4 linked regions of the Homo sapiens genome follow. The protein of the gene in region 2 interacts with the protein of the main gene of each other region in a biochemical or structural test. Each region holds a gene or a part of one and is shown on either strand. Other genes may lie near its edges.

Region 1 (7,942 bases), on a different chromosome or scaffold from region 2:
TACAACCCAGCAGGCCCGGGAAAGTATGACTGACGTGTAACTTCAGTGTTTGTCCTATGTTAGTTTTCTGAAGCAACCCAGAAGAAATCTTTTTCCATAGGAAATCCCTTCGAATATTTGAAAACAGCTTTTACAACTGCCCTTTATCTTTTCTTCTGTTGGCTAAATATATACAGTTTCTTCAGCCTTTAGAAATGTGAGGTTCCAAGTGGAGCCTACTGGTATTCCAGATGAAAGCCCACCAAGCCAGAGAAGGGTAAAATGAGTATATAACACATACTTAGAAGAAGGGAATTTTCTATTACTGCTTCACCTTAAGCTTGTGATCAAATAGCTCCCCCAAGAACTTTGTCGTAGAATAAAGTTCTATGGTACTGGAAAAGATGCTTGATCAACACCATTTGATTTGTATCAGACCCAAAAACCCTGTGGAGGAGGAGCAATTGAACTTGGTCACAATTATACAGACCTAGCTAATGGACTGGGAGTCCTGGAAGGGAAACAGAAAAAGAAGCAATGTAAATCTGAGAGAAAAAGTACTATAAGAAATCAAGGCCTGTTGATTGGGAAGGTAATGATACCAGCTACTATGCAAGGTTGCTGTGTGCTACCAGAAGAAGGTGGGGCAGGATATAAAGGAAATAACTATGTCAGTAGGAGCCCAGCTCTCAGCTGTGGGAAACCCTTCTGTGCACAAGAAGCCAGAAGCAGTGCTCTACTACCTGGAGAGAAAGAGAGAGAGAGCGCACAGGGGCAATGGAGGCAATGGAGTTAGGAGTCATAACGAGGCTGCTGGCAGGATACCAAGGGTATCAGGAAAACACTGCTCAGTGGAGCAGAAAGACTGAAGAGCTTCAGGCTCTATTTCCACATGGATTCTTAGAAGGAATTCCTGGGGAGGGAACTCTCCGGAAAAAAATCATTGACATCTTGCTAATCAAGAAGAAAAGTGGTACAAATCAGTAAGATCTGGAGTACTGCAGGTGAAGTCTGGGAAATGTCCATTACAGATTGAAGAGTCAAAATTAGATGTCATACCTTTATGATGGGTGGACTAGTTTCATTTGGCACCATCCATGCATATGACCATAATATTTAAAGATACGGAGCTTGAGATCTTTGATGATCTTTAAAAAAGGATCACACTGATTGGTTTCACAAAGAGTTACAGTAGGAGAGATCTTAATACCATTCATTACTGAAAATGGATACAGAAAATATTTCAAATATTCCCTTATATAACAGTTATTTCCTAGATCACTATGCTATAAATGTTTAAAGTATAATTGATAATTGCCAAATAACAAAAAGTAGGTACTTCTTTTTTTTTTTGAGACAGAGTTTCACTCTCGTTGCCCGGGCTAGAGTGCAATGGCATGATCTCGGCTCACCGCAACTTCTGCCTCCCAGGTTCAAGTGATTCTCCTGCCTCAGGCTCCCGAGTAGGTGGGATTACTGGCATGTGCCACTACGCCCAGCTAATTCTGTATTTTAGTAGAGACAGGGTTTCTCCATGTTGGTCAGGCTGGTCTCGAACTCCGGACCTCAGATGATCCACCCACCTGAGCCTCCCAAAGTGTTGGGATTACAGGCGTGAGCCACTGCACCTAACAAAAGTAGATACTTCTTACTTTGTAATGGCCTGTTGAAAAGTCTTAGAATTGTTCTGTACAGAGATTCATCTTTAACCAGTATTCTGGCTGCTTCCAAATTCACTGGATTCTCTAGCACTGGATTAGAAAGCATAACCTATAGGAAAACACAGACAACATATAATTTCAGAAGTAAACTTTTTTTAGAGCAAAACGACAAACCAATATATACAACTTTCAATAAGCATGTATTAAATGCTTACTATGTATGGATCTGGAAATAGATTAAAAAATAACATGAGACATAGTCTGTACTCTCAAGAAACCTAACCTTAGGCTCATGAATGTACGGTATAAAACTGTGATAGATCAAAAAGCAAGTTACAAGTTCCTTTCTGTAACTTGTTCCTTCCTAGCATATACATTTACATTGAATTTAAATTAAGATTATAAAAATTTTAGTTGATGGTGGTTAGTGTATTTAAAATTCAAAATATTTTAACCAACATTTCAAGTACACTTCCCTTGAATAACAGTGTGATAATTGAAAATGTATCTAATTTGTTATCAAGAAAGAAGTAGTTAGTCATTATGGTCTCAACTTGTATTGCCCATCACTGTAGGCACAGTCACAGGTGGTTATTTACATTTAAAATAATTAAAATTAAATAAAATTAAAAATTCAGCTCCCTAGTCACAGTGGTAACATTTCAAGTGCTCAGTAGCCACATATGACTAGTAGGTACTGTATTGAACGGTGAGATATATTGGACATTTCCATCAATGCAGAAAGTGCTACTGCGCAGCACTGACCTTCAAAGGAATACTGAATAGCTATTAAAATATTGATTATAACCATATGGAAGTTACTTGAGAGACAATGTTAAGTGAAAAAGAAACAGGCTGTATAGTTTACATACTCACGTGCCACATAACAATGTTTCACTCAACAACAGACGGCATATATCATGGTGGTCCCATAAGATAATAATACCAAATTTTTACTGTACTTTTTCTATATTTAGATACACAAATATTTACCATTGTGTTACAATGGCCTATAGTGTTTAGTACAGTAACATGTTGTATAGGTTTGTAGCCTAGGAGCAACAGGCTATAACATAGCCTTCGTATGTATTAAGCTATACCATCTTGGTTTGTGTAAGTACGCTCCATGATTTTCAAACAACGATGAAATGTGTAACAACTCATTTCTCAGAATGTATCCTTGTTGCTAAGCACATGGCAATATACATACCATAATAGCAATAATGTAAAAATTCAGGTTCATTCATTCATTCATTTTATTTAATATCTACCAAATGTCAGCATTGTCTTTGGTATGCTCCAGGAAATCAAGGATGAATTAGACCTGTTTCCTGATTTTGGGGAGCTTGCAGTCCAATAGGGGAAGACAGATAAGTAAGCAGTGTGTGCTTTATAGTATTAGTGTTCTAACAGAAATCTGCTCAGGGTACTGTTGGGTGTGTAGCAAAGGAAGCTCCCCCAAAACCAAAGCTATTAATTCTCCCTAGGAAAATAAATCAGAAAAGGTATCCTAGAGGACGATTCATTTGTTCCAACTCTTACAACAACATGAACAACTGCTTGCTGGACAGACTGAGGAAGAGAAGAGGAGAAAATGAGTTGCCAGGCAGAGGGGAACTGGAGACTGACCATTTCTAAGGTAACTTTAGAACTCTATGAATGTTTTTTTTATCTGAATTGACCCAAGCAATGTGAGTGCAGAAAAGCATGAAGATATAAGTATGAGCAGGATTGCCTGGTGTGTTAGGGAGAGTCTAGGTGTGAGGATTAGATATGCAACAGAACTAGAGCTTACACCTGTGGAGAAGGTGGGATCCACTGAAAGATTTTAAACTGAAAAACAGGAGAAAAGAGCAGAAAGCTCTTTCCTAGTAACAGTAAAGTTAAGGGTTTTCTTTATAATTGTCAGTGATTTTCTTTTCCTTCCCATTATCTTAAAAATCTTTTGTAATGTGGGCATATTTGTTTTATTAATGTTTTCGAAAAATAAAAAGACAAAATTGTGTTATCTACTGGCTTTCCATGATATATTTGGCAACACTTTGGTGTCACTTTGCATTACTCTTTAATAGTAAGAACAATCATAATGTTAACTAACTAGAGGTTCAGCATCCTAAATCTGAAAATCTGAAATCCTAAATACCCCAGAATTCAAAACTTTTTGAGGACCGACATGATGTGCAAAGGAAATGCTCACTGGAGTATTTCAGATTTCAAATTTTCAAATTTGGGATGCTCAAATGGTAAGTATATGTAATGCAAATATTCAAAAATTGGAAAAATTTCCAATTCCTAAGCATTTCAGATAAGAAATACTCGACCTGTATTAACTATTGAGTTATTTTCTTGGACCAGGCACAGTTCCGAATTCTTTACACACATTAATTAATTTCCTCCTCACAGGTTACATGAGGTAACAACAGCCCCATTTTACTGATGAAGAAATTGAGACATTGAGAAGTGGAAAAATTTGTCCAATGATAGATACAAAGGTATCAAGTGGCAGAACCAGGATGTGAAGCCAAGCAAGCTAACTCAGAGCCCCACATTTTCCTTTTATCAAATTATTCTGCAATTCAAAATTTTCACCAGTTCATTCTGGTTTGCCCTTACTCATTACATTTTGGGATCATTTTGCTATTCTTAGGGCAGACTCTAGTTTAGGTGGATGAGATCAGAATATGTCTCAGTTTAAAGGAATCCAAAGGATTAACCCCAGATTTCTGCATATCACACTCACTCACTCCCTTAAATTTTTTGCTCAAATGTCTCCTTCCTAGAACACAACCTCACACAAGTAGATCCTCAATACATATTTGTAGAATGAATGAATGAACTGAACATTGAATCTTTCCTAAAGATTATATTTTACTTAGTATGCTAAGATGACTAGCCAGGAAAGTATTATTTTATTTATTTTCAAATACAAGAAATAGAAGAAATGCAATTTATATTATAATTCTATATTTAAAAACTCAATTATGCCAGAGTATTTTATATTCCAAGTATTCTAGATAATCAAAATGTAATTATTTATCTTCAGATATTATTGGTGATAAGTAGGTCATGGATAGATTATTGCTAAGCTAGCTCTAAGAGGTCAAAGCAAGTTCACTGAAATAATTCATTTTAGCATTAGATGAGAAAGGAGGCATTTTTAAGGACCAGAAATAACACAACACTGGGTGGATGTGGTGGCTCTTGCCTGTAATTCCAGCATTTTGGGAGGCTGAGGTGGGAGGATTGCTTGAGCCCAGGAGTTTGAGGCCAACCTGAGCAACATAGTGAGACCCCGTCTCTACAGAAAATTTAAAAAATTAGCCATCCATGGTAGGGCATGCCGGTGGTCCCAGCTACTTGAGGGGCTGAGGTGGGAGGATCACTTGAGCCCAGGAGGTTGAGGCTGCAGTGAGCCAGGATTGTGCCGTTGCACTCTAGCCTGGGTGACAGAGCAAGATCCTGTCTCAAAAAGAAAAAAAGAAAAGAAAAGAAATAGCACAACACTGAGGTATGCTTCTAAGGACCATGGGTCCAGTGGGTAAAGGTGGCATCTGAGAAACAGGCATCTGAGGAGAGGAGAAAATCCTTGGTATAAATTGTTCACTGGGTTTGATGTGAACACTATTGGGACAGAAAGTAGCTAACTAGCACTGTCAGAAACAAAAAACAAAAGTGAACATTTTAAGTTGTAGTCATTCGATCCACCTCTCTCAGGAAGGCAAGGTCCATAAATGAAGAAAGATCTAAAAGGCTTGCTCAACATCAGGAAGTGAAGTTAGGAACCAAAAGAAAACCTAAGGTTATATTTTCAGAATTGAAACCATCTAAATAATTATTTTATTCTTTTATAAGATATGCATTCTTTGGTCTTGAGGGGCCTTAACTATCAATTTCACTTTAAATAATAGTTTTTATAATTTAAGTAAGTTCCACTTTGTAGCCTTCATATAGAAGTATGGATTTAAATAAACTTCTCAAATTCTTTAAACACTTAAATATGCATTGTATATTTTAATCCTTGTAGTTTGAATAATTAGGGTAATTAAAAGTATTAAAGAGAGGATTATATGAAATCCATTCTTACCTGTAGGGCAAGTAAGATGCTGCTCAATGTATAGTTTGTATTCCACTTCTCAGGGTTGTCCAAAAAGTCTATACAGGGCTGACCAGTGTGTGGGTCTACTGTATTAAAATAATACATTAATATTTGCATTTATAATAAATTATTATTTAAAACTTACAAACATCAAAATGATAAGCCAGAAAAATTATCTGCATTTACTCTTCCTTTTTCCTAGTTCTTCTCTCTGTACTGAGAAGCACTATACCCATCCCTGGTTCCCACCCATTACCATGTTGTTTTAGCTGAATACATAGGTGCCCCTACAGTTTTTCCTATCCTCTCCTTTAGCAAGATGTGGCCTTGTGACTAAGTTTTTGTTGTGGGACATAAGGATAAGTGTGCAATTTCTGAGTCTTTTTTTAAAGGAAGCTGGCTTTCCTTCTTTTCTTCCCCCTTCCCCCAGACTGGAAATGGTGACAAACAGTAAATGCCTTAGTCCCAGAAATGGAATCTTCACATTGAGGATGGGCACAACCTCCCTCCAGCGTTGTCCTGTTATGTTAAGTTGGAAAGATGTACAGGAGCTTGGCATATGCCCTAACACAGTTAAGTAATTTAGTGTTTGAAAAAATAATAGAGTTAAATAAGAAAAATAAAACTGTAGAATGACTAGAAGAAACTTAAAATGACTATTTGATTTTCTTTTGGGAAAGGATCATCTAAGATGAAAGACAACTGCAAAAGCCTCAAAGGACAAGATTAATAGATCTTAAATATAAATTTATTTTAAATCATAAAAATCTCTAAATCCCAGATGTGAAAAAACAGCATAAACAAAGTTGAAAATTAATGACAAATTAGAGGAAATATTTGCAACATCTAGGACAATGTGATAGCACTGTCAATTGTATCATACGAGTCACAAAATAAGAATCAACAAAGGTGGGAAATGTTTACTTCTCAAGTATTCAAAGAAGTGCTTATTAAAATAATAGCAAGACTCTTACCAAATTGGCAAAAAAATTTTCTTCAAAGTTTCAATGGCCAGAATTGGAAGGTGCTAAAATAAGAACTTTATATGTACTTTTTGGTAGGAGTACAAATACCACCGAAAGGCAATTTGGCTTTTTATATAAAGACTTAAAACTGTACATAGCCATCTTTTGCGGGGCGGGCGGGGGCGGGGGTTGAAAGCTAGTAAATAACCCTTCTCTCCCCTCAAGTTCATATGTAATTATAAAATAGATCAAAGTATTGAAAGGTGGAAGTAAAAACATCAGCTTCATTGCACATAAGACTGAAATGGAGAACGCACTTGATGAATGGCTTTAATCAGGCTCCACAAAAGTCCCCCTGATTTAAACTTAACTCCCAAACCGAAGGCCTGCCTAAGTTTCCTGCCTGGAGCAAAAGAGACTATACCCAGTATGGTCAGAAGGAGAGAGTGTTGAGCAAGTTCTGGGCCACATATGCTCAATTCTTTCCTTCATCTCCCTAATCAGATAAGTGACTTCTAGGAGGAGTGATGGGGGAAAAAAAAAGAGCAGTCACAAGTTTTCCTATACCTTCCCCCTCCTAGAGACTAAAGTTCCCTCTACTTTATGGAAGTGGGAGGGATGAGGACTAGGGGATAAGAGTACCTCCCCCCATTGAATTTAATCCAATAATTCTAACTATTTTAAACAAATAAAGGCACACGTATGTAATTAATTTTGTGTTATAGATACCAAAAATAGGTTTTAATTACAATAAAATAATGTACTTGGGAAAAAAACATAAAAAATCTAATGTAAAATATGAATGTTCCCCTGCCTACTAATTCTACTATTCAAGACCAATATTACCAGTTGGTCTATACAAATATACACACAAACACATATATGTATACACACCCATATGTGTGTGTTTATTAAATGGGAATATATTTTACATTTTATTGTTCAATGTATTTTTTCACTTAACAATGTATTTTCAACATATTTCTGGACACAAATATTTATTCAAAAAATATCTGAATACCTACTATATGCCACGCAGTGAAGATTCTAAGGATATAGCAATGATCTAGACCTAAAAGGTTCGTAGACCTTCCTCGTTCTGTTTAGAAGCAATACACGTAACTGTAGGATATTTCACTTAAAATTCCTGTGTTAATGGAGATTGAAGTTATTTCCATTTTTCCTATTTCTAACATTGCTGTTGGGAATAAACATCTTTTTTTTTTTTTTTTTTTTTTTTT
Region 2 (6,842 bases):
TGACAGAGTAAGGGAGGGGCCTTACCTTAAAATAGTCGAGGAACTGTTTGAGGGTCATCTCCTCACCATTAGGCTGCAGCCCTTGTACCTCAAAGCGATCCCACAATGTCCACTCTTGGTTATAGTACTGCAAGACAAAGAGGGGAGTGTAAGATGGAGACCATCCCAGAGGGTCCAGCCCCCATCTGTCTCCATCCCCCCTACCCCCATGCAGACGTGTTTAGTCAGATCACAACCCTCTTTTGTTCGAAATCCTCTTGTGGTTCCTATCTCACCCTAAGCAATGAAATTCTGTTTTCTTCTCATCTCCTACCCTCCTCAATCTCACACTCACTCTGGGGACTTTGAATTCCTCCAACTTGCCAGGCACACCCCTATCTTGGTACCCTTTCAAGAACTGGTCCCTCTGCCTGGAATGTGTCCCCACTCGCCACCAAGCCTGCACAGTTTGTCCCCTTACATCCTCCAAGTCTGATCTCAAATGTCATCTTTTCAGCAAGGCCTTTTCTGACCATCCTACACAAAATCTCAAATACATCCCCTCGCCCCCTGGTATTCTCAAGTCCTCTTTATCTTTTTTTTTTTTTGAGATGCAGTCTCGCTCTGTCACCCAGGCGGGAGTGCAATGGCGCCATCTTGGCTCACTGCAACCTCCGCCTCCCGGGTTCAAGTGATTCTCTTGCCTCAGCCTCCCGAGTAGCTGGGATTACAGGTGCCTACCACTACGCCTGGCTAATTTTTTGTATTTTTAGTAGAGACAGGGTTTCATCATGTTGGCCAGGCTGGTCTCAAACTCCTGACTTCAGGTGAACCACGTGCCTCGGCCTCCCAAAGTGCTGGGATTACAGGCGTAAGCCACCACGCCCGGCCTCTTTTTATCCTTTTTTGATTCCAAAATCATTTAATAGGTTATTTATATAATCTACTTGAGGAACATAACTTAGAAGAGTCCCTGCACACAAAAGGTGCTCAATAAATATTTGAGTGAATTCATTAATGAAGCAAGCAAAGCACTTAAGTGTAGGAAGCGTCCAATAAATTTTGGCTGCCATTATTGTGTAGTTACTAATAATCTCCCAGGGCACAATTCAAATATCCCATCTTTTCGCACGTACTCAAATAATGTGATTAATGAATAAGTGAAAAAGGATACACAAAAAGGGTAGGTACACAGACAGAAACCCTCACCTGGTGACAGGGTATGACGTGAATCAGAACCAGATCTACACAGATACACCCCACCCAAACCCTGCTTCGGATGCAGGCCCCCACCTGGTGACGTGGTGCGGCAAGGGGTTCAGAGAAACCAAAGAAAGGCAGGGCCAAGTTGAGGAAACCATTCTTGTAGGAGTCAAGCTGTCGGTGCCCCTGCACAACCTTGTACAGCTCCAGACACACAAGGCCAACCACGGCTGCTGTGGTCGTGGCAATGGCTGGGATGATCTTCCCTGCAATCAGCTTGCTCTGAGAGACAGAAGGGACAAAAGAAGGTGGTAGTTAAGTACAAGAGCCTCAGGGTCTACAGAGGGGCTAAGTGTGGGTAACTCAAACCTGGAGGAGGGTGGAACATCAGATTTAGATTCCCCTCACCTTGTGCCGGTCTGCAGAAGGAATGTCATAGTTTTCTGCCCGGAGGTTGGATGCAGCCACGATGAAATCCATATGAAAGTTGCTGTCATCATCCTGTTATGAGTGGGGAGGGTGTGAAGGCAGTGGGGAGAGGATCAGATAAAGAAGATGTGTATCCTCCACTGCAATTGCCTGCTGGACTCTCCCAGATCACAAAGGGATGGCTGGGAACACCTACTCATTCAGAGCCATATGGCAGGCCCACAATCTGATCCCCACAAAGGCCCGGGGCTGGCTCCAGATACTCCTGTTTTCTCCAGCCTGTCTATGCTTTGCCCATCCTCCTTCCCTGTCCTGAGCCCCACCCCATACCTTCTCAAAGTCAATGGGGTACATCTTGAATCCAGGGAGCTTGTCTGGGCTGGGCAGAGTGGCTTTGAGCTCCTCTAGACGACTGTCATCTGCATGAAGAAAGGGACACTGTCAGCCCTTTAGATCCCAGGCTAAGGTCTGAGATGGAAATGAGAGCCCAGGGTGGGGCAAAAGGTATTCAGGTACAAAAAGGATTTGGAAAGGAGAGACATCCTGGGAGAGAAAAGGGGCAAGGAGGAGAGGTAGAGCAGAGCAGAATACAAACCTGAAAAACACAGAGAAAGAGCTGAGGCTATCAAGAATGATCTCTCTAGAGACACTAAGGAACGGAAATGAAAATGTTAGGAGAAAGTGGAGATGGAGAGATCAAGATGGGAGACGTAAAGATCTTGGGAAGAATGATGTAGAGCAAGATGGGGGGAACACAGAGGATACAGGGAGGAAAAGGGGAGTAAAAAAGATATATGGAGGGGAAGTTGGGGGGAATACACAGATGTGGACATAGAGGAAAGATATGGGGGGAGATGGAGAAGATATAAAAGGGGGAGAGTGGGGGTATATACAGAGGGCGAGGCAGGTGGGAGGAGAAAGATGGAAGAAATATATGAAGGTGATGAGAGCTATGGAAGGAAAGATTGGAAGACATACATAAAGGAACATGAAGGAGTAGACATTTCAGAAGGAAGATGGGGACCATGGAAGGGGAAATGGGAGGAGATCTATGGAGAGGAAGACGGGGGAGATATAAGGAAGGTAAATGTAGGGGGCGTTACAGAGCTACAGAAGCATCATATACAGAAGGGAGGGGTGGTGAAAAAATATGCAGATGGGGTGGGGTGGGGGTGTCAGTAAACCGCAGCCCCAAACTATGGAGGGTGAAGATGCACAGAGAAACATGCAGGTAGATGTACAGATGGGGGCGGATCTGGAAGGAGACAAGGCAGGAAAGTATCAAGGGAGAGAGACTGCTGGTAGAGATCATACCTCCTAGATGAACAGATCAAGAAGAAACAGAAGAAAGAACAAAACTAAGGGAAATACACAGAGCAAGAGTAAAACAGCAAGTTCTCCTGAGGGCCAGATAGTGGGAAGGAGGAGGAGGGAGGGAGATAATTTGCCCCAACCTACCCTCTTCATGTCAAAGGGAGGCTCAAAGGAAGGTGTGGGTAAACCTCAGGCCTGGGGTCACAGAGCAGAGCAGAACCAGGGGTAGAGGACTGGTGGGGAGGCTGGACTAGGCCGGGGACATGTGGGGTGACTCCTGGCCAACTGGCCAAACACCCTCACCAACAGAGGCATTGGCGCTCTGCAGCTCCTGGTCAGAAACATGGATCTTGACGCCAGACTTGGGGGTGAATTCGGGGACCTGCACAGACTGCAGGAATGTGGCCACAGCAGCTCGGTCCTGAGAGCCTGTCAGCCCGTAGGTCTGGGCAAACAGGTTGGCAGCAGCCATCACATAGTCCAGATGCAGGGGCTAGGAGAAGGCAGGGCAGGGAAGGGTGAGCACATCAGCCCTCGAGTGGGGAGCCGCCACCTCCTTCCCACCTATTCACCCTCCACCTGACCCCAGAAGACCCTAGAAAGGAGACTTACATTGTTGACATCAAAGGTGAGCGGGTGTGGACAGCGTTTGGGCCCAGACCAGAACGGCGCTCCTGAGCTTGTGAGCTAAGGGATGGAGAGATTTTTGAGAACAGGACCTGAGAGTGAAGGCCTCTCTGACAATCTTCACGCTTCACCTAGGCCCCAGATGTGCCCCCAATTCACTATCTTGGGTTGGGCACTCGATGCGGACTGGAGCCAATCACAAAATACCTCAACTGTAGGGTCCCACAGGTTGAACCAGAGATCTGGCTGAGAGAACAATTACCAATCACTGGGTAGCCATTTTGTGCTAAACAGCCCATCATTTAACAAACTCTCATGGATTACCAGGCATTGTACTAACTTCATTTTAATAAATACCAGTTAATCCTCCCCAAACCCCCCATGAGATAGATCACTATTATTTCTACTTCACAGACGAGGAAACTGAGGTACAGAGAGAAGTTACGTGATTTGCCTAAGTTCAAGTAGAGTTTGGATTTGAACCCATATTGATTCCTGTGCTCTTAACTCCAGAATTTCTCCCCCATAATCCCTACAGCCCTGACTGGGAATCAGGTATGACGCAGCCCACACCACAGTCAAGGGCAATAGCAACCAAGCCTCTTTGCTCAAAGGAACTAGGGTGAGGAAAAAGCAGGTCAGGATCAATCACTCTTCTCAGATCCCCATGCCTCAGGGCACCTGCCACAGCTGGACTCCACAGTGGGAGGACCCACACTGCAGGCTCCCATTTCAGGGAAACACATTCTGCCAAATGGACCCAACAACTGGGCATTACCTGGTCAGGAGGGAAGTTGTGCAGCAGCTGCCGGATGTTGTTCGAGTACTGGGTGTGCCAGTGGTGGCAGGCCCAGGTCACGCAGTCAGCCCAGGTCTGTGGTCGCTGCAGCACCAGGCTGCGCTGCACAGCCTCCAGCACCTCCAAGGGCTGAGTGCCTGCCAGCCGCAGTGTTCGCTCCACAAACTTGGGGTCTCTATCAGGAATCGAAGAGGACAGAGGATAGGATTACATGTCAGCCTCAAGAGTGGGCTCCAGAGCAATCTTACTTTCTCCATGGAAAACTAGTCCCGACCCCAAACAACATGAGGCCCCAACAGCCACTCATTCATGTGAAAAGTGTGCCTGGTGCCAAGTGTTACTGTCATGAGGAAAGCAGCCGGGATGCCTTGGCTGGTGGACAGGGACAGGGCGAGAGGGCACTCGAGTTACTCACGTGAGGTACTGGTTGACATTTTCTGCTGGCTGCTTGAAGAGGCCTTCAAACTCATCCCGAGCCCACTGCAGACAGAGCAAACAGATTACATGTGGCCACAGTTGACAAAATGGGTTTCCGCAGGCATTATTAGAAGGACCATCAGTGAATAAAGCAAGTACAAGGCGCACAGCTACTCTGGAAGTGGGGAAGCCCTCTAGCCTTCCCCATTCCCCCACCTCAATTGAAAAACCAGGCCAGGCACAGTAGCTCACACCTGTAATCCCAGCACTTTGGGAGGCTAAGGCAGATGGATCACCTGAGGTCAAGGGTTCGAGACCAGCCTGACCAACATGGTGAAACCCCATCTCTACTAAAAATACAAAAAGTAGCTGGGCGTGGTGGCAGATGCCTGTAATCCCAGCTACTCAGGAGGCTGAGGCAGGAAATCTCTTGAACCCGGGAGGCGGAGGTTGCAGTGAGCCGAGATCATGCCATTGCACTCCAGCCTGGGTGACAGAGGAAGACTGTCTCAAAAAAAGAAAAATCAATGAAGTTGATTTGGGCAGTGGTTACAATAGTGCTGTGTATGTGGAAAACTGTTTTGTTTTGTTGTTTGAGACAAAGTCTCACACTGTCACCCGAGCTGGAGTGCAGCGATGCAATCACGGCTCACAGCAGCCTTGACCTCCCAGGTTGAAACGATCCTCCCACCTCAGCCTCCCGAATAGCTGGGACAGCAGGCACATGCCACCACACCCGGCTAATTTTTAAGATTTGTTGTAGAGACAGGGTCTTGCTATGTTGCCTAGGCTGGTCTTGAACTCCTGGGCTCAAACAAACCTCACTCCTTGGCCTCCTGAGTGCTGAGATTATAGGTGTCAGCCGCCATGCCCAGCCTAAAAATGTATTAAGATCTGAGTGCCAGGCGAGGTGGCTCACGCCTGTATTCCCAGCACTTTGGAAGGCTGAGGCAGGAGAATCGCTTGAACCTGGGAGGCGGAGGCTGCAGTGAGCCGAGACTGCGCCACTGCACTCCAACCTGGGCAACATGAGCAAAACTCCACCTCAAAAAAAAAAAAAAAAAAATCTGTGTACCTTATTCTAGATATGTTATGCCTCCATAAAAAATAAAAACTTCAATTAGGTATATCTTACCACAGTTTTTTAAAACACAAAAAACTCAGACCAAACCAACAATGATCCCTATCCAGGCCCTGAGGACTTGGCAGAAAACAAGACAGAGGCCGGACACAGAGGCTTACACATGTAATCCCAGCACTTTTGGAGGCTGAGGCAGGTGGATCACTTGAGCCCAGGAGTTTACAACCAGCCTGGTCAACGTAACGGGCACGCGTGCGTGCGCACACACACACACACACACGTACACACACTTACACGTACACACAGACACTTACACACACACACACACACACGTACAGACACTTCCCAGGAGTTGGAAGGTTGCAGTGAGCTATGATTGTGCCAATACACTTCAGCCTGAATGGCAGAATGAGACCTGTCTCAAAAAATAAAATAGCAAACAAGACAGAACTTCTGGCCTCTGAGAATTCCTAGGACAGTTCGCAGTCATTAGCGAGGTGGTTTGGAGTGTACAGATGTTAGAAATTCAGGTTCAGATTCCAGCTATGCCACGTATTACCTAGTTTTGTGACTTCAGGCACACAGGATAACATCTTTACCTCTGTGCCTTGTCTCTAAAACAGGTGTTACAACAGTGATACCTACCTTCATGGGGTTGCTAGGAAGAAATGAGCAAATACATATATATTTAAAGCTTGGTTAAAACAGTGCCAGGCACACAGTAAATGCCAAGTGGTTCACAATAGTCCTGTGAGGTAGATGCTGTCATTCCCATTTTACAGAACAGGAATCTGCGGCACAGAGAGGTTAAGTTCAAGGTTACACATGACCTAGCAAGACTGTGGTTGGTGCACAAATACAAACATACCCACTCTGGAACTGCAGTGTCAGAAGGGAGAAAGTGACAGATGGAACTGTTTTTTTTTTCCCTTCCCTATTTTGTTCCCACCCTCATACTCCTACTATTCTAAATGGTTTGGCCTCAAACACTGC
Region 3 (7,942 bases), on a different chromosome or scaffold from region 2:
ACAAAAAAAAAGTAGCCAGGCATGGTGATGCGTGCCTGTAGTACCAGGTACTTGAGAAGCTGAGGTGGGAGGATCTCTTGAGCCTGGGAGGTCGAGGCTGCAATGAGCTGTCATCGTGCCACCACATTCTGGCCTGGATGACAGAGTGAGACCTGTCTCTTAAAAAAAGGGACTTTGGGAGGCTGAGGCGGGCGGATCACCTGAGGTCAGGAGCTGAGACCAGCCTAGCCAACATGGTGAAACCCTGTCTCTACTAAAAATACAAAAATTAGCCAGGCATGGTGGGGAAGCTGAGGCACGAGAATCACTTGAACCTAGGAGGCGGAGGTTGCAGTGAGCTGAGTGCACCACTGCACTCCAGCCTGCTGGGCGACAGAGCAAGACTCTGTCTCAAAAAAGAGAGAGAGAAAGAATAGAATAAAATAAAAATCTTTCATGTGACATACAGTGAAAGGACATAAAGCAGATGGTTCAACAATGAAAGTCCCTGTTCCTCTAAGAATGTAGATAAAGGGACGTACTAGGGATTAAAACAATGAAGGTACAATAATGAATAGAATCAATGCAAGGTGGTTATTACATAAATCTGAAAAGACAACCTTGAAAAATATTAAGTTGAAAAACTAAAGAGAATACTGAGAATATTAATACAGAAATAAAAAATGTAAATACAAAATTAACACCTAAATCTCAATGTAGCATGAAAAATTCTATGTTTCTCATCAAGGAGACCAAACAAGAGTATGTACATGGACCAGCATATGTGTATCCCCAGAAACATTCAAAGCTTACAGTTATCCTTAAAAGAGTCACATTCCTACGCAAAAGAGAGAAGTTCCTAAGAATGCTCAGGGCTACAATCATGGAAAACTGTCCTTAAAAACATGCGGGACTCTCTTCTAAGTTTGGGTTTGCTTATTATGCCAAAAATAGGCTTGATGAGAAAGTATAATGACTAAAAGGAGCATCCTCTGAGTCTCTACAGCTTACAAAATCTAAACTGAGACTCTATCTCTAGCGCTGCTAGGAGGAAACCAGTGAAGTGGAAGCTCCAATAGATTGGCAGGGTGATGAGGCTGGTGAGGTGGGGGTGGGAGGGTGGAGGGAAGAGGTCTTCATGGAGGACTAGGTTACACGGAAACTTTTTAGATGATCAAGAGTTCTTTTCTGAAATTAAGATATATTTAAAAAATATATACGTATACACAAACACACAAAGTAAAACCTGTCTCCAGCTGAAAGATGTACAAGAAAAAAAGAGGAATGCTATTCCTTGCTACATTAAAAAAAAAAGTTAGAATAATTCATAGCAAGGAAAAACACTCTCCCATTTGGTTTCTTGCTATCAGAAACAAAGTTGATTATGTTTCCTCTGTCCTTGAGGAACACCAAACCTACCATGTGGTAATGTTATGTTTGCACCATCAATGATTGCTTGTGCCAGTTCATGATCATTGCTCTCAAAAGCATGTGCAGCAGCCTTCAAGGCATCCCAAATCTCTTTCCGGCCTTCAAAAGCTGGTGCTGTATCCCAAAATTCATCCCTCTTGCTGCGTAGTTGTCCATCTGTCATAGGATAATCGCTTTTCCATTTTGGTTTCTCCTTTTTCAAAGGCTGGTTACGACCTAGAGCAACTGAAAAGAAAAATAAAAGACTGAGATCAAACCCAAAATTTATAAAATATGTATCAAAAGTTATCTGGTCATTCCTCTCTTGGATTATTTCATCAAAATCACAGCCAGAAATTTACCTGCTAGCTAATTTGTGCATCCTGAAATTCCTCTAACACATTTTGGAACTACAAAAGTGAATAGAGACATTAGACTGCTCTATGCAAAACAAATTGGTAGCTCTTTTCCACTCAGTACACCCTCCACAGGATCATTAAAAAGAATTACAGGCTGAGTGCAGTAGCTCAACACCTGTAATCCCAGCACTTTGGGAGGCTGAGGTGGAAGGAAGGCTTGAATCCAGGAGTTCGAGACTAGCCTGGGCAACATGGTGAGACCCCCATCTCTACAAAATACACAAAAATTAGCCTGGCATGTTGGCATGTGCCTGTGGTCCCAGCTACTTGGGAGGCTGAGGTGGGAGGATCACTTGAGCCTGGGAGGTTGTGTTTGCAGTGAGCCATGATCATGCCACTGCACTTCAGCCTGGGCGAGAGTGAAACCTCATCTCAAACAAAACAAAACAAAACTAAAGAACCCCAGAGAATTATAGTTGTAATGAATGTACCACTCTGGTGGAGGATGCTGATAATCAGGGAAAGGAGGCTATGTATGTGTAGGCACTGGGAGTACATAGGAAATCTCTGTACCTTCCTCTCAATTCTGTTATGAATCTAAAACTGCTCTAAAAAAATTTTTTTTTAATACAATGAAAGTTTTGTTTTGTTCATTTTAAAAGAACTGCCTAGAAGGTAAGTGTTTCATCAGACTGTAAGAGCAGGATATGAGAGTCAAGAGACACCACGAAAGAGAGGCAAGATACTTGGGGAAGCAAACGGCAATAGTAGCTTGGACACATGAAACCAGGAAGTAGGAACTGAGAAAATCCAAAGAGGTAAAAGATTGCTTTTCAGTGCCCAGAGAAAGAAGAGCCAAACCACCAGAATCATGAACAAACTGATTAGAGGAATGCTTCCTCTAGCATTCTACTCTCTGGACTTTAGTCAAGGAACTGTAAATACCTTTCTCTGGAACTCAAACAGGAACTAATTTACAAAGGGTAGAATCAGTACTTTAGTTTTTTTGAGGAACTGGGAGTAAAAGAGATAATCTTTGATGCTAGGCCAAGGGATTAGCTCCGAACCACAAGGAGCAGAAGAACTATGATACCCTACCCTAGTTTCAACCCAAGAGAAGAAGAAAACAGAGGGCAAGTGGCAGCATCTCCCCTTAGACAATGTTATGTAGTAGTAGCGCTGGAATAAGCCTGATGCAGCATCCTTGCACCCAGATAACCATCTGGTGTATTATCTGTGATCTATTTCCATGGGTCATACTGACCTACAGAGCCATTCTTATTTATGGCTCTGTAAGATTATACAGTGCTATAGATAGGGAATAGTTTGATAGATGGGATAGAAGATAGAAAGAAAATTGAAGCTGGATGAAAAGATAAGAAGAGTGTTGGAAAAGAGTGGGTGGGAAATAAATGACACAGCGAGTGGGAAGGAGAGAGGGTGTGTGTCAAAATTCAATGTTCTATATTTAATTGCAGAAAGAATACCAATTTTAAAGAAATCACTCTCAAACTGGTTCTAAAGCATCCATGAAATTGACTACTCCCTCATTGGCCCAGGGCCAGATGAAATTTGGACTATGCAAAACAGAAAATAAAATGACTCCAGACCCTGGGCTATCTCTACTCTCCAGGCTATATTCTCAATAAAGACTGCCAGGTCAGGTCTCTTCTGTCCTCTCCCCTCAGGGTGGCACACCAAAAGACTAGCTGTTTTCCACTTAAAACACTCAGCATTAACTCAAATACTTTTTGCCCTCTAACTTGTCCTAGTGAAATGCAAAACAGGTGAGTTCTGAAAGGGTGAGGAAGCAGAATAGGAAACCCATCCATTTAGTAGCAGAGCTGGAAACAGAATCCAAGTCTCTTTATTTAATCAACAAATATGTACTGAGTGTCTACTGGGAGTAACACTACAGATGTGCCTATTACATTTAATTCAAATGCGAGAAACACAGTCTATACTAATGATTTTTCCCTACCTCTTCCAAATAATACAGACAATGCAGCTAGAGCATAATTCTCTAGAAGATGTTCAGAATCTGGTCTGATAACCACAACCCACTGATTGCACCAACACGATGGAATGCAAGGTTGATTTTATTTTCTGCTACATTATCATTTAGATGAGTTAGAGACAGTTTACAGACAACACTCAGCTTACTGACCAGGAAGTGGAAGATGGCACAGTAAGCAGGTAGACTCAGTAAGATATTTATCTGAATAAAGTTTTGGGTCTGAGTATTTCTACAGAATTATCTGGCCTCATATGTATTAAATGCATGAGAGATAACTCAGTATAATTTTTCCTGTCATTCTGAGAGAATTACAAAGCATGGACAAAAACAACAAAACCTCTACAGAAGAATCTCAGGACCTAAAACTAAAGCAAATGAAAGGAAGAGGACTTTGAAAAGAGGAAGCCAACAGAAAAACAATCATAATAAGGGTACAAAGTACCTTGGAAAAATTGTAAAACACCTTCCTTACAAATGTGAGGTAGGTTCATTTCACCTCTCTCCGTTTGTACTAAGCATAGATGAACAAAGTCCCACAAAAAGAACAGATGATGCGTTTATGTTGCTTAAGGAAAATCATTCCAAATGCATTTTCTTTAATTTTTAAATTTTATTCATATACTTGAGACAGAGTCTTGCTCTGTCGCCAAGGCTGGAGTGCACTGGTGCAACCCGACTCACTGCAACCTCCGCCTCCTGGGTTCAAGCGATTCTCCTGCCTCAGCCTCTCGAGTAGCTGGGACTACAGGCCCGCGCCACCATGCCCAGCTAATTTTTGTATTTTTAGTAGAGACGGGGTTTCACCATATTGGCCAGGATAGTTTCAATTTCTTGACTTCATGATCCGCCCGCCTCAGCCTCCCAAAGTGCTGGAATTACAGGCATGAGCCACTGCGACAGGCCCCCAATGCATTTTCAAATCTACATGCTGTCAAAAGTTTCACGGTAATTTGTGACATGAAGGAAGATTACTTTTATTTGCCTATTTCTGCCTGTATTATAAACATAATATAGAATATCTGTCTATAGAATGTCCACTGTTAAAAAATGATTAAATCTTTGTAACATAATTACTTTAGTGAAACCACAGAGCAGTGCAGAATTTTCACTACAAAATCTGAGGCTTGAAGCTTCATGTTAAACTAAATGACTAACCTTTGTTAAATAAATAACTGGGAAAAAAATTAGCATTTAGCAAAAGCATTTGAACTATCCTCTCGTGAAAACATGAAAATATTTAGGTTTGTTAAGAGGACTTAAGTTCATATTCATAAACCACTCATAATAATGCATGATATACAATAAAACTGCAAATAAATGTTTGCTAAATAAGTAAAAATGAACTTAGAGGTACTATATGAAATAACATCTTTAAGTCCTTTGGCAAAAATATACAGGCTGTCTTTCTTCTTTTCATAACTTCCCAATCCCTTCCTTAAATGTTAAAGAAATGTCCCTGATTGTCATGCACTTCCTGTGCCTTATCAGAGTACACTTGCTAGGCATTTGTTCACCAAATCTTATCCTTTGAGTTCAGGTGGTGCCACAAACCTGTATTTCTGAAAATGCAGTAGTTGGACATAGATTATCAGCCTGGCAGCTAAGTACCTCATGTTTGTACCAAGCCAAACATTTTTGTAAGATGTAGAATATATACATACTCAACTAGATTTCATTTTATGCTCTTAAACTTTCAGTTTTATCTGCTTCACACATCTTCTGACTGCTGATACCAAAAGAGAGATGCTTGGTAATCATACATAGCATATAGGACTAGGTACCATGCTCTAACAGTGAAGAATTTAAAGACAGGAAACATCTTTTATTCCCCAAATTTCTGCTTCTCTATCCTTAAACTGCAGGTAACCAACCATCTTTAGTGCACTATGAATTAACATATGAGAAATAAAAAATTAATAAAGCAATCTAATCTTAAAAAACCACACAATCTATTTCAGAAAATATCCTTTCCCCCATCAATCCACATTTACTTCAAAACGTGTCCAAAAGTCATCTTTTTCTCAGAAACCTCTTAATCATATTCACCCACTCTTTATCTTTCCTTGTAATCTTTAAACACTTCTTCCCACTCTGTAACAAATAAACAGATCTAACACACAGAAAACCCAAGTAAGGCTTGTTTCTCAGATCTAAATAACACATAATTTTAAATATTTTTACTACATAATTTAAAGCATTCTACCAAAAACTCATTTTGACATTGGTAAAAAACAATCAATTCTGAAGTTAAGTATGATTATAATTGTTTTCCTGTTTTGGGTTCCTCTTTGAAAACCTTGATTTAATGATGGAACGCTTCAAATGAAGAAAGAAGAGGCCATAATGCATGGATAAGGTGAAAATATCAAGATATGACTCAAGCAACAGCTTTAACCGGTTGAAAACTGGAAGCATCAGTTTCCATAAGACAATAGCGTGAGGGGAAAAATGGAGTATTAGAACCCTTCCGTAACAGACGGTGCTAAACTAAAAGGACACTTGCAAATATTTTCACATAAATTTAGAATGCACTATATACACACATATATACATACATGCATAATACATATATTCCCTTTACCTAAAGCAACTAACTGCCAAAAAAAAATAGGGATATGGGAATTAAAATGCCTAAAATGCCAACAATCAATACAATATGCAAATCTTCTCTACTGTTTGAGAATTTAAAGGTAGAAGAGACCTTAGATTGTATAATCCAACCTTACTGACAGATAGGAAACTAAGATGTAACAAGGATGGCTTAAAATAATCACCCCGTACTAGAACACACATGCCCAAATTCAAAGTCCAGATCTCACTGGGTGCGGTGGCTCACATCTGTAATCCCAGCACTTTGGGAGGCTGAGGCAGGGGGGATCACTTGAAGCCAGGAGTTTGAGACCAGCCTGGCCAACATGGTGAAACCCCGTCTCTCTCTTTTTTTCCTTTGAGATGGAGTTTCACTCTTGTTGCCCAGGCTGGAGTGCAATGGCATGATCTCGGCTCACTGCCACCTCTGCCTCCCAGGTTCATGTGATTCTCCTGCCTCAGCCTCCCGAGTAGCCGGGATTACAGGCGCCTGCCACCACGCCTAGCTGATTTTTATATTTTTAGTAGAGACAAGGTTTTGCCATGTTGGTCAGGCTGGTCTCGAACTCCCGAACTCAGGTGATCCACCAGCCTTGGCCTCCCAAAGTGCTGGGATTACAGGCATGAGCCACCGTGCCCAGCCTGGTGAAACCCCATCTCTACCCAAAATACAAAAATTAGCCAGGCGTGGTGGCAGGCACCTGGAATCCCAGCTACTCGGCAGGCTGAGGCAGGAGAATCGCTTGAACCTGGGAGGCAGAGATTGCAGTGAGCCGAGATCACACCATTGCACTCCAGCCTGGGCAACAGAGCGAGACTCCGTCTCAAAACAAAACAAAACAAAACAGAAGACAGCAACAACAAAGCCCAGATCTCTCTTTCCATTATAGCACTCCATGTCTTACTGGGCTGCTTATTTTCACATAGCAAACCAATAACGAAGATTCACTCTAAATAAAGCATATGCTGAATTGTTTTTCTACAGAAATGATCCATCCATGGGCTTCACTATGGCCAATGGAATGGTTATGACCAGACAAAGGAAAAGCTAACAAAGGAGAAGCAGCAGCTCCCTAGCCCTATCTAATCTACCACTTAATCTATGTTGTGGAGATACCAACCATGATCACTGAAGAGGAATCCTGCAGTAAAGAAGGGGTGATGTGGCTTTACGGCCTATCACTTTCAACTTATAAGTACTTAGCATCTACAACAAATTAGAGACTAAGGATCGTATGTAGGAATATCTGCCTAGACAAGTTAGATACATCATTTTCCGTACTATAATTTTATTAAAAATGAAATAAAAATGAACTTCTGCCATGCTCATATCCTAAAGCTTACCAATTGAAGCATAATAATTTTAAAGGCATTTATATAATTTCAATGTTTTTGAGGTAGCTTTATTGGGGGGAAAAAAATCAACATAACTTCATAATGAATTCCTAGCCCTGATTCTCAGAGTGTAAGTCCCCTTACCAATGATCTGAGCATACAAACAGGCAACATTTTGTAACACCTACCGCAACATAGTATGTTCAAAGACTTTTCCCCCCACTTTTTTTTTAACTATAGCTCTCAGATCCTA
Region 4 (7,942 bases), on a different chromosome or scaffold from region 2:
GTGGGCCCGGGAGGAGTTTGCCGGGGAGGAGTGGGTTTGGAATCGGGGTTAAAGGAAAGAGATCCAGATGTCGCACGTGACCTAAGTGAGACTGGGCGAGATAAAAGAAAGAGCATATGGCACCGAGGGAGAGATGGGGAGAAATGGGAAAACCTTGCTTAAAAAATTTGGACATCCGCCCCACCATACACTGTATTCCACCAGGAATATATGAGCCCTGCCTCGACCTCCCCTTCCCCCTGCGCGCGCATACACACACCTTGGGAGCCTGTGATCCCCCTTGTTTCTCAAGAGAGGGTGACTCCTTCATGGTTTCTTTCTTAAGACACCCCTCTCACTCAACTGGAGCAAGAGTGTAGATTTTTGATGTTGGAATGAGGGTTAAGGTTTACTTAAAAAGCAGCGAAAGTTTGTTAAGCGCTTGTTTTTAATTAAGCACTCTATATACTGTGCTTTGAGAGGGGAAGGAAAAAAACATGAAGATATCCTCCCAGGGTTGAAGTCAGTTTTAAGGGGGACATAAATGGACACAACTAACCCCAGTAGGTACACAGTAACTAATTTTAAAAGCACTTATTGGATGCCTACTGTATACCAGGTACTGTGTGGAGGAAGTGGGAATGTAGAGATAAAAGATAAGACTTTCCCTCAAGGGACAACCCAGTATGGTGAAGGGTCAGAGCATTAACCAGACAGACAGTGGTTGTCAGAGTATGATGAAGGTGCTTAAGAATGTTATGGGACTGTAGAAGAGAGGAGGAGCATCTACTCAGACAGGTAAGGGAGTGTCAGCAAAGCCTCCCAAGAATATGTAATAGCTGAGTATTTTTTTTTGAGGCACATTGTAGCTCCATCACCCAGGCTGGAGTGCAGTGGCATGAACATGGCTCACTGCAGCCTCCACCTCCTGGGTTTAAAGGATCTTCCTGCCTCAGTCTCCCAAGTAGTTGAGACTACTGGCATGCACCACCACACCTTATTTTTAAAATTTTTTGTAGACACAAGATCTGGCTATGTTGCCTAGGCTGGTCTCAAACTCCTGGGCTCAAGTAATTCTCCTGCCTCAGCCTCCAAAAGTGCTGGGATTACAGGCGTGAGCCACTACATCTGCTCCCCAGAGTTTATTCTTGAAAGATCATCGTGAATTAGCAAGGGGAAGCGCATTCCAAGCCAAGGAAGTTTGTGGAAGGTAGAGATGTAGGCAAGCCTGACTGGTCCCACTAGAGCCTGGTGACTAGTGTGATGAAGTCAGAAAGATGCTCAGGAGACAGATAATGAAAGGCTTTAGATGCCATTCCGAGGAGTTTAATCCTAAAGACATTAAGAAGGAAGGCCCATTGAAGTGCATAAGGAATGATTATGAACAGTTCACCTGTAGCACTGAGCAATGGAGAATGAATGGCCTTGAACTGGTCAAGATGGAGGCGGGGAGACCATTTAGGGGGCTCTGGCCATGATCTAGGTGAGAAGTGGTAAGGGGATAAGCCAAGGCCTGAAGAATAAAGAGTTACTAAGGAGGCGGCATTGATCGGAACTGAGAACTGATTAAATGAAGGGAGAAGTAAGGTTGACACTTAAGTAACCCAGTGACTAGTAGACTATTAACTGAAAGCAGTAATGGACAGGAGAGTAAGAAGTGGAAAGAGATAAGGTGAACTTCTGAATGCTGAGTTAGGCGTTTCTGAGGATTTCTAAAAGGAAATGGCAAGAAGAGAGTTTGTTTAGTCACTGTGGAGAGACAACTATACTAGGAGTAAAGACACAGGCAAGTAGAGTTGAAGTGCTGGATATGGAAGAGTCCCCTAGAGAGTGTTTGCAGATTGAACCAAAAAGAAGGTTAAAGGTGGGAACCCTAAAGAACTTCAGCAATTGCAGGAAGCAGGTGGGGAAGGAGGCTGAAGAGATGAGACTGAGAAAGGCAAACAGCCAGAGAAACTGGAGGCAAACCAGGAGTGAGCAAGATCCCAGAAATTAAATAATGATAGAAGAGAATAAAAAAGGTGTGGAGGTAGGCAGCATGGAATGCTGCAGAGAAGTCAGGCAAAATAAGGACCAAAAAATACTTTGTGGTTTGAGGAGCTAAGGGTTCAGTGGCAACTTTGGCAGAAGTAGTGTTCATTCGGAGATGATACCAGATTGCAGTATGTTTCAAAGGTATGGGAGAAGAGAAAGTGAAGCTTGTGAATTACGATTTTGAGACCCAATGAGGACAAGAATACGAAACAGTAATGGGGGAGAGGGGTATAAGGGTAAAGAAGGCTTGCTTTCTTGCCTTGAAGGAGCAGCTTAAGCGATATACGAAAGGAGAGAAGACACAGTATATCTCTAGCCACACTTAATCTTTTTCAGTTCCTTGGGGATTATACTTTCTCACAATGAAACTCTTCGGAGGCTTTTCCTGTCCCTATAATGAAGTGGATAAGAGTGATTAAAGTACAAAAGATTTTTTTGGTTTTGGTGGGTTTTTTTTTTTTGTGACGGAGCCTCACTCCAGGCTGGAGTGCAGTGGCGCGATCTCAGCTCACTGCAGCCTCAATCGCAGGCTCAAGCCATCTTCCCTTGTAGCTGGGACTACAGGCACACACCGCCATGCCTGGCTTATTTTTTGTTTGTTTTTGTTTTTTGTTTTCTGTAGAGATGAGGTCTTGCTATGTTGCCCAGGCTAATCTTGAACCTCTGGCCTCAACCAGTCCTCCCACCTTGGTCCCCAAAATGTTGGGATTACAGGCGTGAGCCAGTGTGCCTGGCCACAAAAGAGATTTAAAGGAAGGAGAGATGGTATGGCTGTGTTAGTCCTTGGGGAGAAATTAGTGTCTGGGATGAGTCAGTCATCTGTGTTGATAAGGTGAGCTGATCAGGTTTTTCCTTCTTAGGTACTTCAGTAGATCCTTCCTCCTAATGCCTTTAGGATTAAACTCCTTGGAATAGCATATAAAGCCTTTTATTATTAATCCTGCACAATTTTTCAACTCTCACACTAGTCACCCAATACTGGGCTCAGATTTTTTTTCTTTAACTTTTTTGTTTGTTTTTTGTGGTTTGTTTTTTGGGGAGGAGGAGGGCCCCAAACTTTGAAATGTGTTCTGGATGGAGGATGCAGATTAAGCAAAGACAGACATAAGCGTGCCTGGGACTTCATAAAGGAACAGAAAGAAGCCAGTATCGAGACCAGAGGTGTGGGTAGGGAAACAGAAAAGATAGGGTAGGGCCATTTTAGTCTGTGAAGCCTTTAATTATTGGAATTGTCTCTCGTTAACTCTAGTTTTTTGGAGAAGTAGATGCACCATAAAACTTTCCTGAATAAATGATTACTTTGAAATACATGGAATTCTAGTCTGAGAATATTTTAATGTAGTAGATGGCGGATACCATTGACTTTTTTTCTTTTTTTTTTTTTTTTTTGAGACAGTCTCGCTGTGTCACCCAGGCTGGAGTGCAGTGGCGCGATCTTGGCTCACTGCAACCTCCACCTCCCAGGTACAAGCGATTCTCCTGCCTCAGCTTCCCAAGTAGCTGGGACTACATGCGTGCTCTGCCACGCCCAGCTAATTTTTGTATTTTTAGTAGAGATGGGGTTTCACCATGTTGGCCAAGCTGGTCTCAATCTCCTGACCTTGTGATCCACCCACCTTGGCCTCCCAATGTGCTGAGATTACAGGCCTGAGCCGCCGCACCCGACCAATTTTTTTTTTTTTAATATTAAATACTGAAATGCTTAAGGGTAGAATTAGATAGCAGTGAATGGAAGGGATGTTTTGGAAGAGAAGATAATAAATAGGCCTAAGCCTGAAGGGAAATCATGAGGCTGCCTCCAGTAGGGGAGGGAGTTGGACATGGTCCTCTACCTTCAGGGAAACAAGGATGGAGAGGGGGAGAGCTAGAATCTGTTGAATCTGTTTTGGCTTTACTGGGAACACAGGCTAAACAGTCTCTCAGGTTACTCTCTAGAATGAAAGCACACAGACAGGTAAATATGACACAATGTGATTTGTGCTATAATATTCAAGCAGAACAAGTAAGGCATAGACTGAGGTGTTCATTTGCTTACCAGATAACTCTATTTACATGGCCTATAGGTTTTACAAACAACGTGTCCCCCTGGCCAGGCACAGTGGCTCAGGCCTATAATTCCAACAGTTTGGGAAGCTGAGGCAGGAGAATTGCTTGAGGCCAGAGGTTCAGGATTAGCCTGAGCAACATAGTGAGACCTCCTCTCTAAAAATTATTATTTTTTTAATTAGGCAGGCATGGTGGCGCTTGCCTGTAGTCCTAGCTACTCAGGAGGCTAAAGTGGGAGGATCACCTAAGCCTAGGAATTTAAGGTTACAGTGAGTTATGATCATGCCACTGCATTCCAGCCTGGGTGACAGAGCAAGACCCTGTCTCTTAAAAAAAAAAAAAAAAAAAGGAGGGTGTGTGTGTGTTGTATACATGTGTGTGTATCTACACATATCTCCCAAATTGAATTTATAATATCTTCTTCCTTCCTATAAGACCTTCTCTTCCACTGCCTCCTTAATTAATAAATGGTACCACTTAGCCCAGCTAATTTTGCCAGCTAAAAACACAGGAGTCATCTCTGAGTGCTCTTTTTTTTTTTTTTTTTTTTTTTTTTTTTGAGATAGAGTCTTGCTCTGTCACCCAGGCTGCAGTACAATAGCGTGATCTCAGCTCACTGCAACCTCCGCCTCCTGGGTTCAAGCAATTCTCCTGTCTTAGCCTCCTGAGTAGCTGGGATTACAGGCGCCCGCCACTATGCCTGGCTAATTTTTTGTATTTTTAGTAGAGACTGGGTTTCACCATGTTCACCAGACTAGTCTTGAACTCCTGACCTCAAGTGATCCGCCTGCCTCTGCCTCACAAAGTGCCGGGATTACAGGCATGAGCCACCGCGCCCGGCCGGGTGCTCTTTATTCCCCACCTCTAGCCCCATCCTATGAATTCTTCTTTATGTCCGCTTGTCACCACCACCCAGACTACTCTGACAGCCTCCCCAGTGGATTTCCCACTATGCTTATTCCCTCCGATTCTTGCTGTACTCTGAAGCCAGAGTGAAACTTTAAAGTGTGAAAGTGATCATACCAATAAAGTCCCCATTCCTTAACCTTGCTACAAGGCCCTCACTCCAGCCTTACCTTGCACCATTCTCCCCTCAGTCTGTAAGCTTAGCCATACCAAACCTTTCCCTGTCTCTCAGTGTGTGTGCTTTCTCACAGCTGGGCCTGTGCACAGCACTGGAATTACACCATGTGTCTGACTAACTTCTCATACTCCTCATTACTTCAGTTATTTGCTTAAATGCCATCTTCTTAGAGAGGCCGCCACCAGAGATGAAGCCAGCCTCTCCCCCACCACCAAGTAGGCTTTACCTTTTCTTTTGGAACCTTCAGTACACCTGGAATTACCTATTTAAAAATCTCTCTTCCTATAGCCTGCAAGCTCCAGAGGAGACCACATTTGTCTTGTTCATTGCTATGATCCCCTACGCTAGCACAATATCTGACACATGGTAGCTGTTTAGTAGATACTTAGTGGATGAATGAATAGAGATGGGAATGATTATTTCTGCAGGAGTTGTGAGACAGTACAAATATTTAAGGAGTGATAGTTAAGCTAGAAAAATAATAAAATAGGATAGAGGCTACAGAGATCTTTGCAGGGGGGATCAGACTGCTTTGGAATTTGCAGATAAGCATTCACGATGTCCGCTTAACTTTCTAGACAAAGTGGTGAAGAAAGGGAAGAAGGACAAGAAGATCAAAAAAACGGTGAGAAAATGAGGGTTGAGGATAAGAAATGACTATGGATGTTTCCAAGCTAAATAAATAGCCATGTGAAGGAGGTGGGAGGTCCAAGGGAGGAGAAAAGATCTTGTCAAGAGAGGAGATAGGCAGGGCACGGTGGCTTACACCTGTAATCCCAGCGCTTAGGGAGGCAGAGGTGGGAGGATAGCTTAAGCCCAGGAATTTGAGACCTGCACACTCCATTCTCCACAAAAAGAAAAAAAAGAGAGAGACAGGAGGTAAGGTGAGGGTGGAGTGGAGGGCCAGTGGGCCAATGTGTGGCAGAGCACAGCCTGCTTGGATTGCTCTTGGAAACATGTTTACCTGTAGCTTAACTCCCTTTATAGTTCTTTGAAGAGCTGGCAGTAGAAGATAAACAGGCTGGGGAAGAAGAGAAAGTGCTCAAGGAGAAGGAGCAGCAGCAGCAGCAACAGCAACAGCAGGTACAAGTGCCACAGGGCCCACCAATCCTGGGAGGCATCTGGGTTCCACCAACCCCTTTCCAGCCCATGTTGCTCCATTCAGCTGATGGGGAACCCTCTGTGAGGCAGAAATACAGCAGGGGCCTGGGCTTCATTTTCTCACTGTTCTTTTGCTCTCAGCAGCAAAAAAAAAAGCGAGATACCCGAAAAGGCAGGCGGAAGAAGGATGTGGATGATGATGGAGAAGAGAAAGAGCTCATGGAGCGTCTTAAGAAGCTCTCAGTGCCAACCAGTGATGAGGAGGATGAAGGTAAATGACCTGAGGGGGAATGGGTACCTGGAATCCATGAGTCATGGAGAGTGATACCTCATACCCTGATCTTCAAGTTGGATTCAATTGGGGGGCCAGACATTGTAATTCTTTCCTATCTCATGTTCTCCCCCTGTCATTTCAGTACCCGCCCCAAAACCCCGCGGAGGGAAGAAAACCAAGGTAAGCCATCTGTGTGGTAAACGGAGACTCCAAGGATGCAACCTTGACCATCCTACTGACTTCTGTGGCCCTTTCATTCTCTAGGGTGGTAATGTTTTTGCAGCCCTGATTCAGGATCAGAGTGAGGAAGAGGAGGAGGAAGAAAAACATCCTCCTAAGCCTGCCAAGCCGGAGAAGAATCGGATCAATAAGGTGACAGTGGTGGCTCGATCAGTCACTCTCACTCCATTTAGCACCTTCTGGCCATGGTGGAGTAATTTCCCGCTTTTAAACTAGCTCTTCTCGGTCTGTCTTACTTATACTGTTAAAATCATCTTTTTAGAATACATGCCCAGGCTGGGCACAGTGGGTCACGCCTGTAATCCCAGCACTTTGGGAGGCCGAGGTGGGCGAATCACGAGGTCAAGAGATCGAGACCAGCCTGACCAACATGGCGAAACCTCATCTCTACTAAAAATACAAAAATTAGCCAGGCGTGGTGGCGTGCGCCTGTAATCCCAGCTACTTGGAAGGCTGAGGCAGGAGAATCACTTGAACTTGGGAGGTGGAATTTGCAGTGAGCTGAGATTGAGGCACTGCACTCCAGCCTGGGCAACAGAGCAAGACTCAGTCTCAAAAAAAAAACAACAAAAAAAACCATGCCATTTTTATCACTCAGAAATCTACAGTGATTCTGTTGCTTTAAGCACAGAACCTGAAACAAAGCCCCAGGTCCTTGCTCTTCTACTTGTGACTCTTCTGCGTGTGCATCTTAGTCCATGTCCATTTGAGCTCTTGAGAAAGCCTCCAGTGCTAGTGCCACTCACTCTGGTGGCGCACTTGCCTGACTTATAATCCTTAGCCTTGCTGACGTTCCCTAGTTATCTCTTCGCTATCTAGTCTGAAGCTGGAGGGTAGGGTTTTTCTGGGTCTCATTTTTCGTCAGCAGCACTCAATACAGATGGTCTCCAACTTCTGCTTCGGTGTACGATTTTTCTACTTTATGATGGTGTGAAAGTCATACTCATTTAGGGTACTCCTCAACTCATGATGGGATTATATCCAGATAAACCCATCATAAGTTGGAACTATTTTTTTTTTTTTTTTTTTTTGAGACGGAGTCTCACTCTGTTGCCAGGCTGGAGTGCAGTGGCGTAATCCTGGCTCACTGCAACCTCCGCCTCCCGGGTTCAAGTGATTCTCCTGCCTCAGCTTCCTGAGTAGCTGAGATTACAGGCACGTGCCACCACGCCCAGCTAATTTTT

What was found.
Region 1: of the proteins of UBA1 (region 2) and UBE2U, one has a biochemical effect on the other in vitro, tested with the Homo sapiens proteins (one study listed by BioGRID).
Region 3: the proteins of UBA1 (region 2) and UBTD2 are reported together in a solved structure, tested with the Homo sapiens proteins (one study listed by BioGRID).
Region 4: of the proteins of UBA1 (region 2) and ABCF1, one has a biochemical effect on the other in vitro, tested with the Homo sapiens proteins (one study listed by BioGRID).

The regions. Positions count from the first base shown.
Region 1 is NC_000001.11:64,208,622-64,216,563, reverse strand, and holds part of UBE2U (ubiquitin-conjugating enzyme E2 U), read right to left. Parts: intron 5,823-7,942; coding exon 5,725-5,822; intron 1,750-5,724; coding exon 1,632-1,749; intron 1,128-1,631; exon of another isoform or gene 1,039-1,127; intron 1-1,038. UniProt on the Homo sapiens protein: Catalyzes the covalent attachment of ubiquitin to other proteins.
Region 2 is NC_000023.11:47,207,612-47,214,453, reverse strand, and holds part of UBA1 (ubiquitin-like modifier-activating enzyme 1), read right to left. Parts: intron 4,832-6,842; coding exon 4,767-4,831; intron 4,527-4,766; coding exon 4,331-4,526; intron 3,613-4,330; coding exon 3,538-3,612; intron 3,419-3,537; coding exon 3,229-3,418; intron 2,031-3,228; coding exon 1,942-2,030; intron 1,684-1,941; coding exon 1,591-1,683; intron 1,465-1,590; coding exon 1,273-1,464; intron 128-1,272; coding exon 26-127; intron 1-25. UniProt on the Homo sapiens protein: Catalyzes the first step in ubiquitin conjugation to mark cellular proteins for degradation through the ubiquitin-proteasome system.
Region 3 is NC_000005.10:172,232,724-172,240,665, forward strand, and holds part of UBTD2 (ubiquitin domain-containing protein 2), read right to left. Parts: intron 1,636-7,942; coding exon 1,399-1,635; intron 1-1,398.
Region 4 is NC_000006.12:30,571,688-30,579,629, forward strand, and holds part of ABCF1 (ATP-binding cassette sub-family F member 1), read left to right. Parts: intron 1-5,721; coding exon 5,722-5,768; intron 5,769-6,130; coding exon 6,131-6,226; intron 6,227-6,388; coding exon 6,389-6,515; intron 6,516-6,660; coding exon 6,661-6,698; intron 6,699-6,782; coding exon 6,783-6,890; intron 6,891-7,942. UniProt on the Homo sapiens protein: Isoform 2 is required for efficient Cap- and IRES-mediated mRNA translation initiation. Isoform 2 is not involved in the ribosome biogenesis.